3 separate regions of the Homo sapiens genome follow, and all the other regions are reported to be linked to region 3. The links are microRNA targets in miRTarBase. Many come from high-throughput screens and were not tested one by one. Region 3 holds a microRNA gene; each other region holds the end of a gene's coding sequence.

Region 1 (3,000 bases), not on the chromosome of region 3:
AGGAGTTAACGGTTCTCCGCTTTATTATTTTTTCCTGCTTTGGCGGTGACAGCATTGTCTGGGCTCCGGGGCCGTGGGGGAACATGGTGGTGGAAGGGGGCGGAGGCCGGTAAGACCCCGGACTCGTTAAAGGGCCCTAGAGTCGGTCCTGGATCCAAACCCCATTCATGGTTTGGCGGTCTGGGGCGCAGGGAGCCTGCGTGTGCACAGGCTCGGGTCAGGACCCCACGGGGCCACCGCGGGCACCGCACGGACACCCCGACACACGAGCACCCACACCCCCAGACGGGCACCCGGAGACACGGGCGCCCAGCAGACGCAGGCAGGACGCGCTCAGACAAGGACACACAGACACCGCGGCGCGCGGCCACACGAGGCTCGGCCACCCGCCGCCACGCGTCCCCGGGGGGTCCCGCACCCGTCGCCGCGCGCCCGGCCCCGCCGCGCCCCGGTTACCTTCATGTCGTTGACTATGGCCTGGAAGAGCCCGCCCAGGGCGCCGCACTCCTTCTCCGCCGTCTCCATGCTCTGGCTGGGCCGGGCCGCGGCGGCGGCTAGGCGCACGGAGCGCGGGGAGCAGCGCAAGGGAGGGGGCCAGGCCGCGCGGGCGCTCGCTCCGAGGCCGGGCCGGGCCTCCCGCCTCCAGGCTGCGCTCAGCGGCCGGCCGCGCCGCGCTCCGGGGTCGCGGGCCTCCGGCGGGCGGCGCGGGCCATGTCGCAGCGGGGCTGGCGGGCGGCGCGGGGGGCGCGGCGCGGGCAGCTCGCGGCGCAGCCTCGGCGCGGGGACTGACGGCGGCGGTAATCCGAGCCGCCGAGGATCGGGCGTCACGTGGGCGCGGCGGAGGGGGGACCGCGAGGAGGGAGGGAAGGAGGGCGGGCCGCGCGGGAGGGGGCTGTGGGAACGGCCGCGCGGGCGCAGGCCCATTCACGGCCAGAAACCAGGGCTTTGAAATCCGAGCCCGGGCGCTGCCAGACTGGTCCGGCGAGCGGGGCCGACGGGCGCGGGCGCCACCGAGGGTCGGGGGGCGGCGCTGGGCGGGGCCCGCCCTGCCCACGCAGGAGCGGGACTGGCGGTTGGGCCTCGGCCCCCGGGCAGGGGCTCCACGATATCTTCTGGCCTTTGGTCTGGGGCGGGGGGCTTCTCGCGCTTCTAAAGACAGGCAGTGGGTACAGTGGCGGGATGGGGTCGGTGCATGGGCTGGATGGGTGGCATACACCGCACACAGCAGGGCGCGGGGTATCGTGGAGCCGCCCGCCTTGGGACGTTTCATCGCAGGCACAGACCTTCCTCAAGTTCGGACCCTTCCAAGTTCCTTGGCTCCTTCTCCAAGTGGTGCCGATGCCACCCGGATGGGGTGCCCAAGGCTGGGCATTTGGGGGGCAGTGGTAGTCTCCTGGGCCTTGAACAACCTCCTTCTTCGCGGGTGGGGGCTAATGTCGGACCTGCAGAGCAGAGCTGGAGTGTCCTTGGTCTCTGCTGCCTGAGTCCACGGTGGGTGCGATGCACACACGTGCATGGGGTAGCAATGTCAATCGCAGCCTGTCCTGGAGACTCCAGGCAGGGAAACCCACCCTGGGGGGCAGCACGATGGGGGAGCGCACTCTGGGGAAGAGCAGGCACAAGCTCCTTCTCGCCTACTCCATGGGCCGGAGGGAGCCAATTACAAGCTCATTAGGAGACCAAGCCCAGGGTTCCCAAAGCCTGGGGACAGGTGGTACCACTCCCGGTGAGGAAGGGCTTTCAGCTGCAGCAGTGGTTGGGGCACCTGCCCCTCCCTGGACTGCTCTGGGCTTTTCCTCCCCTTGCCCCGAGATCTGCAAAGTGTTCTGCAGTGTGCATTGCCCTTTCATCCAGGAACTCCTGGGGCTCAGCTCCCATGTCCCCAGTGGGGAACTCCCATTGCCCCAGGGAGTCAGGATGAGAAAGGCAGATTGGGGAAGGCAGGGTTCAGGATTCCAGGGCAGGCAGTGCATGGTGCTCTCCAGGAGGGTGCAGGTTCCAGAGGTGGGGACCTAGGCTCTAGGCCCATGGCTCCACTCAGGTGAGTGCAGGGACCAGGCCCTGGGGCAGCCAGTACTCCTTGGGGCCATCATGAAACCCGATCTCCAGGACAGAGGGTGAGGCCCCCGGACAGCTGCACGTGTCAGCTGGGAAGGAGCAGGCCGGCTCGGGTTGAGGGTTTTCTGTTATTTCTTTATTGGGGTGGGGGTGGGGTGCATCATTCAGATCTTTGTGCTGGTGCCTACGTGCATACAAGTACACACACACACACACACACACAGGCATGTGTTCACGTATGTATACATATACACACAAGGCCAGAGCTCTAGTGTGCTGGAGGAGGGGCAAGCTCTTTTTCCAAGAGGGTATTAGAAAGAGGTTGATTCCAGAGGATGAGTGGTCTCTGAGGCTATAGCCCCCCACTGGGTGGGCAGCCAGCTCTGTGAGAATGCCAGGGTGCAGCTGACAGCGCTGGAGGCCTGGGGACTGGACTCTGAGAGGAGCTTGGGCAGACACAGCAGCCTCCGGCCCCAACACTGCCCTGGGTTGGCAGGCCCAGCCCTGGTCCTGACAGGCAGGTCCTTGAGCTCCTCGGGAGGGCGTGACGACCCTTAGTGTTTCATGGGACCACTCGGTGGGCCCTCCTCCGTGCCAGGCCTGTCAGAGGACAACCCTCCGGTCCAGGTGGTCCCCACGCCCGCTCCGCTGGTGCCGCACTTCCAGGTGCTTGTTCTGGACCTTCTCAAAGTGCTGCAGCAGCTCTGCGTAGTCGATGCTAGGGGAGTCAGCTTTCTGGGACTTGGGGGCTGCCTTTAGACTGTCTCTGGGAAGAGGGAGCAGAAATGCTCAGTGTCAGGGATCAGCTCACAGGGGGGTTACTGCTGGAGGGCAGTGGGGTCAGAGGCAGAGCCACAGGCTGGTGGGCTCGGCCTGTGGGCGTCTGTCTCAGGCCTGGCAACTCTTCCGTCATGGCGGGCCCCAGAGCTGGGAAGCCCCTGA
Region 2 (3,000 bases), not on the chromosome of region 3:
TTTCTTCCACAATGCCTTTACCCTGGAGCAATAAAGAAAGCAAAAGGAGCCGACCAGCTTTCTCCATATTATGGAATCAAGCCAAGTGATTATATTTCTGGTTCTCTTGTCATCCATAACACTGACATCGAGCAAAGCAGAAATGCAGAAAATGAATCTCCTAAAGGCCAGGCTTCCTCAAATGGGTGTGCTGCGCTGAAGAAAGATTCTCTGCCATTGTTGCCCAAAAATCGAGGAATGGTAATAGTGAATGGTGGACTGAAACAAGATGAGAGACCTGCTGCCAACCCACAGCAAGAGAACATTTCCCAGAATCCTCAGCACGAAGACGACCACAAATCTCCCTCGTGGATCTCTGAGAACCCATTAGCTGCCAATGAGAATGTCTCACCAGGAATTCCCTCAGCAGAGGAACAGTTGTCTAGTATAGCAAAAGGTGTGAATGGTTCCAGCCAGGCTCCAACCAGTGGGAAATATTGCCGGCTATGTGATATCCAGTTCAACAACCTTTCAAACTTTATAACTCACAAGAAGTTTTATTGCTCATCACATGCAGCAGAACATGTCAAATGAACTAACTAAACATCAGTCACCTTTGGTATCAGTGTTTAGTATGTTGTTCTAACCAGTCCAGAAAAAAAAATAAGCTGTTTGAATTACATCTGGGCAATCAGGAGATAATTCATTATGGCTGAGTTGAAGACTTAAGGTGTAATTTCATTACAGTCCATTAGTAAAGTGTATTATTGGTGCCATTTTCAAAAAAATTAATTTATTTTACCAGCAGTATTCATAGCTGTGGTTATGTTATTTTTTATTTAAAAACTTTATATTAAAGTCATTTGTAATGTTATTGTATAGTTATTGTGTAGCACATATGGTTTGCACTGTATAGTAGCTTTTAAAGAAAATAGTCACAATACAGAAAAGCATTTTAGAAATAGCTTCAAAAGCACTTGTGTATCTTGATTTTTTCTTATATGCTGTTGCAGATATATGTATATGCTAAAATATAACTTGCAAAGATGTTCTAAATACACATGCTATAAGTTCGCCTTAAGATTTCAATTCTTGGATAATCAGGCTCTGTTTGCACTTTATATTTTAGCAGATACAGTCTCTTAGTCACTAGGCTTTGCATTTGTATGTAGCTGTATGTTTCCGTCCATTTTCTTAATCCTGAACCTGTATGTTAAATGAAGATGGCAATTTTTTTCTTGTATAGTACTTGTATTTTCTTTCGCTGATGCAGCTCTGTCTCAATTTTTAAACCTTTGCTGTTAAATGCAATACTTTATAAAGAATGAACAAAATTACTGGAAGCAGTATTGTAAGTAATGAGGTAGTATTAATCAGTTTTATCTTTTGAAAGGCACAGTCTAAATCGAAACCCTAAACTCAATGCTGCAAGTATGAATTTAATTCATATATAAGATCTATTTAAATATAAGAGTAGCAATACTGCACCTGGTGATCACAAAGATAATGTTCTACTTCTGATAGAAATAATTTCTCAACAAATGTTGTTACTATGCATGTATATGGATGGAATAAAATTCCAGATTGTTGGAGAAGTTTGGCACACTTTTTTTCCCTTCAAAATAGAAGAGAAGCCCTAAATCTATTCTTTGTGATGAAAATAGTTTCCAAATGGCACCGAATGGCTGTAATAACACAATGACAAATCAGTAAAGAGAAAGATTGTCCTTTACATACACCTAATTAATATAACTTGCTCTATTAAAATGAACTAGAGGCTCCAGGCCACGAAACTAGAAAAGTTCTTCATTATAACTATGTATAATTAGCAGAATCTCTCTGTCTGCCTTTCCCCATCATCGCTGCAGCACAGATAAAGAGCAATTTCATGCATGTCTACAAAACTTACAAGCCATATGCACAAGAATCAACACAAATGTTGGTCAAATGCACCCAAGATTCAGATGAAATTTACCAGAGAGAGAGGTTTGCATTTTGAGCAATGGTGACGTGGTATGGTAAAGTGACTCTGATGAGTAAAGATGTGCAAATCTAATGCTCAGGATTTGTAAAAGATTGATTTTGTACATCTCATTTGTATAATCCAGGAGTTTGCATATTGAGGGTGAGTGGAGAGCAGAGAATGTGGGCCTAATGGACCAGCCAGAAGCATTGAGAGTGACTTGGCAGGCATGATGGTCTCCTGCAAAATTAGAAATCTCCTGACTTGGAAAGGCAACTACCCACTTGAGGCTAAGAAGATACACTCTTTACAGATAGATAGGTTGTGATGCACTATTGTTCATCCATATTGAATCTGGTAACATAACGAGCATAAATGTTGGCCTTAAGCATAACATACAAATACTGTGACAAAACATAAAAAAAAAATACTATGTTGTCAAAAACATGTCTCCACTTGCTTGTTGAGAATAACTATTTTCAGAATTGAAATCACGGAATTAACTGATGCCTTCCATTTCAGTCAGTGATTAAACAGTGAGGTGAACAGGACTAATGTGCTTAATAGTGTGAAACAGGAATCTCTCAAAGTATGAGATCCTTGGGGATCAATGGAGATGTTCAGAAAGACCTTTGTGGTGCACAGGTTGGAATTGGTAGGGCTGAGTATTCTTAAGAGGACTTTCTTCCCCAATCTCTTTTTCGTCCTCTTTCCTCTTCAAAAAGAAAGAAAGAAAAAAAATTAGCCAAACCGACATATATTTATTGATTACGTGGCTTGTATCCACTATTTAGGGGATGAAGGCAAAGAAATATAACACATGACTATTTCCTCAAAGAGCTTATAATTTGATTCAATTTAGTGCTTCTCAACACTTCTCTCATTAAAATTGCCTAAGGAACATTTAAAAATGCCAGTTATTTATATAGTTTTGTACACTGGGCCTTACCCTAGATCAATTAAAGAAACACTCAAGCCTGTGAGCTCTGAGAATCTGTACCTTATAAAACCTCTCCAGGTGGTTCTAATATGCAAACAGTGTTGGGAAATATTGAAAG
Region 3 (3,258 bases):
AGCCCACACTCCTTACCCTGGAGTTGCAGCTGGGGCCACCCTCAGGGGGGCCCTGATCACACTCCCCTGATGCTGAGTTCCAGATCTGAACTAAGAAGAGTAGTTAACAGCCGGAAGCGCAGACCTGAGGCCAGCCCGGCTGCGTCCCCTCTGGCGGGAACAGGGACAGGCTCCTCAGAGCACCCGGGCACGCCCAGCTCCTCCCCTCATCCAGGCCGCTGCTGCCCTTATCCTCTTGGGCAGAGTTTGAAGAGCTGGCTGACGTGAAGAGTGCTTTGTTTTTTGTCCCCTCTTCCTTCCCCCATGTCAGGAGTGGGGTTTCTTCTTTATTTGAAACACTGGTGTCCTGGGGAGTAAAGCCGGTGGGAGTCATCCCTCAGGAAGTGCTGGCGCCCACTCCTGGAAAGGCTGAGACAGCACAGGTCCCAAAGCCCAGAGGCTGGGCGTGCATTACTCAGCAAATCCTTACAGAGCCCCCGGCGTCACAGGCATTCACAGTCCCCCGACCTCCTGGAACTTAGGAGGCTGGTCAGGGAGACAGATTCACAAACCGATCACAAGCATCAAATAATTGCAGGCGGGTATTAAGAAGGAAGCAAACAAAGCCTGGGAGAGAGAACAGCGAGGGATTGAGCAACCCAATAGCTCCCTGGGGCTGTGGCCCTCCAGGGCACGGGTGGGGCAATCACCTGTCGGGCCCAGGTCCCCTCTCCCAGCAACGCCCTTTCTATACAAGCCGCAGCTGCACAAAGGCAAGTCCCACCTCCTCTAACCGCCCTTGGGCTACCTGCCCTTGGGGTGGGACTTGGACTCCACTGAGGGCTGTGCTGTGAGGTGGGTCCGGGAGCAGCTCGGTCCGGAGAGTGGAGCGCGATCGTTCCCTCTGCAGGCCTCAATCGAGGGGCAAGGCTGATGCTCCGGGCCAGCTGGGGTCTCTGGGTAGCGGTGGGTAACTTCACACTAGCGACACCTTGCTGGGACCCGCCTGCCCTTCACAGGCCTGGCGGGGCCTTCTCCCTCCCCTTTCCCTCAGGGGATCCCAGCACAGGCTGGGCACTGCGGGGCGGCACAGCCCAACTCCTGCCCAGCTGACCCCTCGCTGACCTCAGGGATCTCTCTGGCCTGCAGCTCCGCTGTGGGCAGGGTCTGAGGCCACAGAGGAATGGGCTAGTCCTGGGGGCAGCATCTGCTGTGGGGAGGGGACCCAAGGACAGCCCCCGCTTTTTGTACCTCTGGAGACAGGGGTGAGACTAGGCAGGTTGGAGAAAAGAGGCCCCTGGGAGAGGGTGGGAGGCCTAGAGGAGTGGCCAAGCCTTAGAGGAGGTGCCCGTGGCTGGCGCTGGGAGGGAAGGGGTTAAGGCAGTGGGGGGGCAGCCTATGGCAGGAGGACACACCTGTGCGCAGGGTGGCAGGCGGGGCCCAGGTAAGGAGCCTGCGCTGGCTGCCCGGCAGGCGGAGAAGGAAGGAGGAAGAGCGGAGGCCAGGGCGGGCTCTAGGCCGTGGAATCTGGGGCCTTAAAGCCCCTTCGTCTCCCCAGCACCCACTCTCTGGGGGCAGGTGGGCCCGGTGACAGGTAAAGGCCACCAGGGGAGAGGTCCTGGGCTGAGCTTGGGACTGCAGAGGGGGGATGAGGGTGGGTAAATCGGTGTGTGTCGCGGGTCGGGAAAGGCTGCCGGGGGTAGGGGAAGGTGGCTCAGAGGCGGCGGGCCGACGGTCGAGGGGCTTCGGAGGGCCTGCTTGGACTGCAACCTGGGCCTCGTGATCAGCGACCCAGGGTGTGGCTGGTGGCGGGCAGCAGGGCTCACCAGGAAGTGTCCCCAGGGACTCGGGTGGTGGGGGGATGGGAGCCAGGGATCTGCAGCTTTTCCGCAGGGATCCTGGGCCTGAAGCTGCCTGACCCAAGGTGGGCGGGCTGGGCGGGGGCCCTCGTCTTACCCAGCAGTGTTTGGGTGCGGTTGGGAGTCTCTAATACTGCCGGGTAATGATGGAGGCCCCTGTCCCTGTGTCAGCAACATCCATCGCCTCAGGTCCCCAGCCCTTAGCTGGCTGCAGCCCCCTCCCCACTTCCCACGCACCCCGGAAGCCCCTCGTCTTGAGCTGAGAGCGTTGCACAAGGGGTGGTTCTTGTTGGCTGGCTGCCACTAAGGGACACAATGGGCCCCAGCCCCTCCTCCCACCCAGTGCGATTTGTCACCTGGTGGATCCAGAACCCACAGTCGACCTTGAGCTTGGGGTTGGCTCGCCCCCTCTCAAGAGACCTCACCTGGCCTGTGGCCAGGGTCCCCTGTAGCAACTGGTGAGCGCGCACCGTAGTTCTCTGTCGGCCGGCCCTGGGTCCATCTTCCAGTACAGTGTTGGATGGTCTAATTGTGAAGCTCCTAACACTGTCTGGTAAAGATGGCTCCCGGGTGGGTTCTCTCGGCAGTAACCTTCAGGGAGCCCTGAAGACCATGGAGGACTACTGACCAACAACCTCTGACCTTCACCCCTCTGGATGGGGGACGAATCACTAGGCAAAGGGGAACAATGGGAAGGAGACAAAATGGCTGCCTTTACAGCTGCAGCAAGATGTGGAAACACTGGTTCCCTAGGCACCTCCATTGTCTTCCCGCCTTGGGAGCATGAAATAAATAAAGTGTGAAGGGGAACATGAGGAAGACTGATCCAAGTCACTTGACCTGTCTTTTGTCTAGTTGTTTATCTCATCTTAGCCTCCCAGCAACTCAGGATTGGGGCTGCGACGTCTGCTTTGTCTTTCATGATACTCAACCCCAAGCAGAGAAAAATATCTTAAAAATCGAAGCAGATTAACCCAGTCCCTCTGTTCAGATCCACCTGCTGCCCTATCTGCATTTGGCAGTTCCTGGACATACTTTGCACCTATGTTTTGTCTGAGTTCCACATCTTCCTTGTCTCCCCGCAGGGATGGGAAATGGGCAGTAGTGGGAGATTCAGGTATAAACGGTGGCTCTGTTTCTCTGGTGCCTGAGATTCGGGAAGGCCTGTCTTGGGAAGATAAGTGTCAGCTTATCTGTGGACTGAACAGACAGGCACCTGTTCTGTTGGCCCCGGAACTGCGGGCATGAAAAGCCCACCTCCCCAGGGGAGGCCTGTTAGCTAGCAGCTCCTCACGCCTGGTGACTGAGAAATGGAGTCTGGGGGGCCTACAGCAGGCCACGCGATCCACTGGGCTTCTGGGCACAGAAGTGCCTCAACAGGCACAGGCAGGCTCCCCACAGCCACAAGGAACCCTGCTGC

The links. Region 3 holds the annotated microRNA hsa-miR-200c-3p (UAAUACUGCCGGGUAAUGAUGGA, at 1,967-1,989, shown strand). A microRNA usually pairs through its seed, bases 2 to 8, with sites in the 3' UTR of a target mRNA and lowers its output. Matches are read on the target gene's strand: a 7mer-m8 pairs with bases 2 to 8, a 7mer-A1 pairs with bases 2 to 7 and ends in A, and an 8mer does both.
Region 1: the mRNA of VAC14 is a reported target of hsa-miR-200c-3p. The part of its 3' UTR that is shown has no 7-base or 8-base seed match.
Region 2: miRTarBase lists ZFPM2 as a target of hsa-miR-200c-3p. Seed matches in the 3' UTR shown: 7mer-m8 at 785-791, 7mer-m8 at 1,324-1,330 and 7mer-A1 at 1,345-1,351.

Annotation. Positions count from the first base shown.
Region 1 is chr16:70,685,267-70,688,266 of GRCh38, forward strand. VAC14 (VAC14 component of PIKFYVE complex) reads right to left here. Exons shown (of 19, transcript NM_018052.5): 19 at 2,173-2,824. The coding sequence ends at 2,662. MTSS2 (MTSS I-BAR domain containing 2) reads right to left here and starts at 787. Exons shown (of 15, transcript NM_138383.3): 1 at 457-787. The coding sequence starts at 525. RefSeq lists an enhancer at 2,315-2,821.
Region 2 is chr8:105,802,966-105,805,965 of GRCh38, forward strand. It overlaps ZFPM2 (zinc finger protein, FOG family member 2), which reads left to right. Exons shown (of 8, transcript NM_012082.4): 8 at 1-1,574. The coding sequence ends at 573. All of the region lies in intron 2 of ZFPM2-AS1 (ZFPM2 antisense RNA 1), which reads right to left. Among named protein-coding and RNA genes, the nearest start is that of ZFPM2-AS1, 260 kb to the right of the region's middle. RefSeq lists an enhancer at 1-451.
Region 3 is chr12:6,961,776-6,965,033 of GRCh38, forward strand. MIR200C (microRNA 200c) reads left to right here and starts at 1,924; the gene lies at 1,924-1,991. It overlaps MIR200CHG (MIR200C and MIR141 host gene), which reads left to right and starts at 1,470. Exons shown (of 2, transcript NR_135032.1): 1 at 1,470-1,573; 2 at 2,426-2,672. It overlaps MIR141 (microRNA 141), which reads left to right and starts at 2,322; the gene lies at 2,322-2,416. LOC105369634 (a long non-coding RNA gene) reads right to left here and starts at 1,324. Exons shown (of 2, transcript XR_931601.2): 1 at 764-1,324; 2 at 1-346. RefSeq lists enhancers at 1-582, 1-323, 132-341, 583-1,384, 3,167-3,216.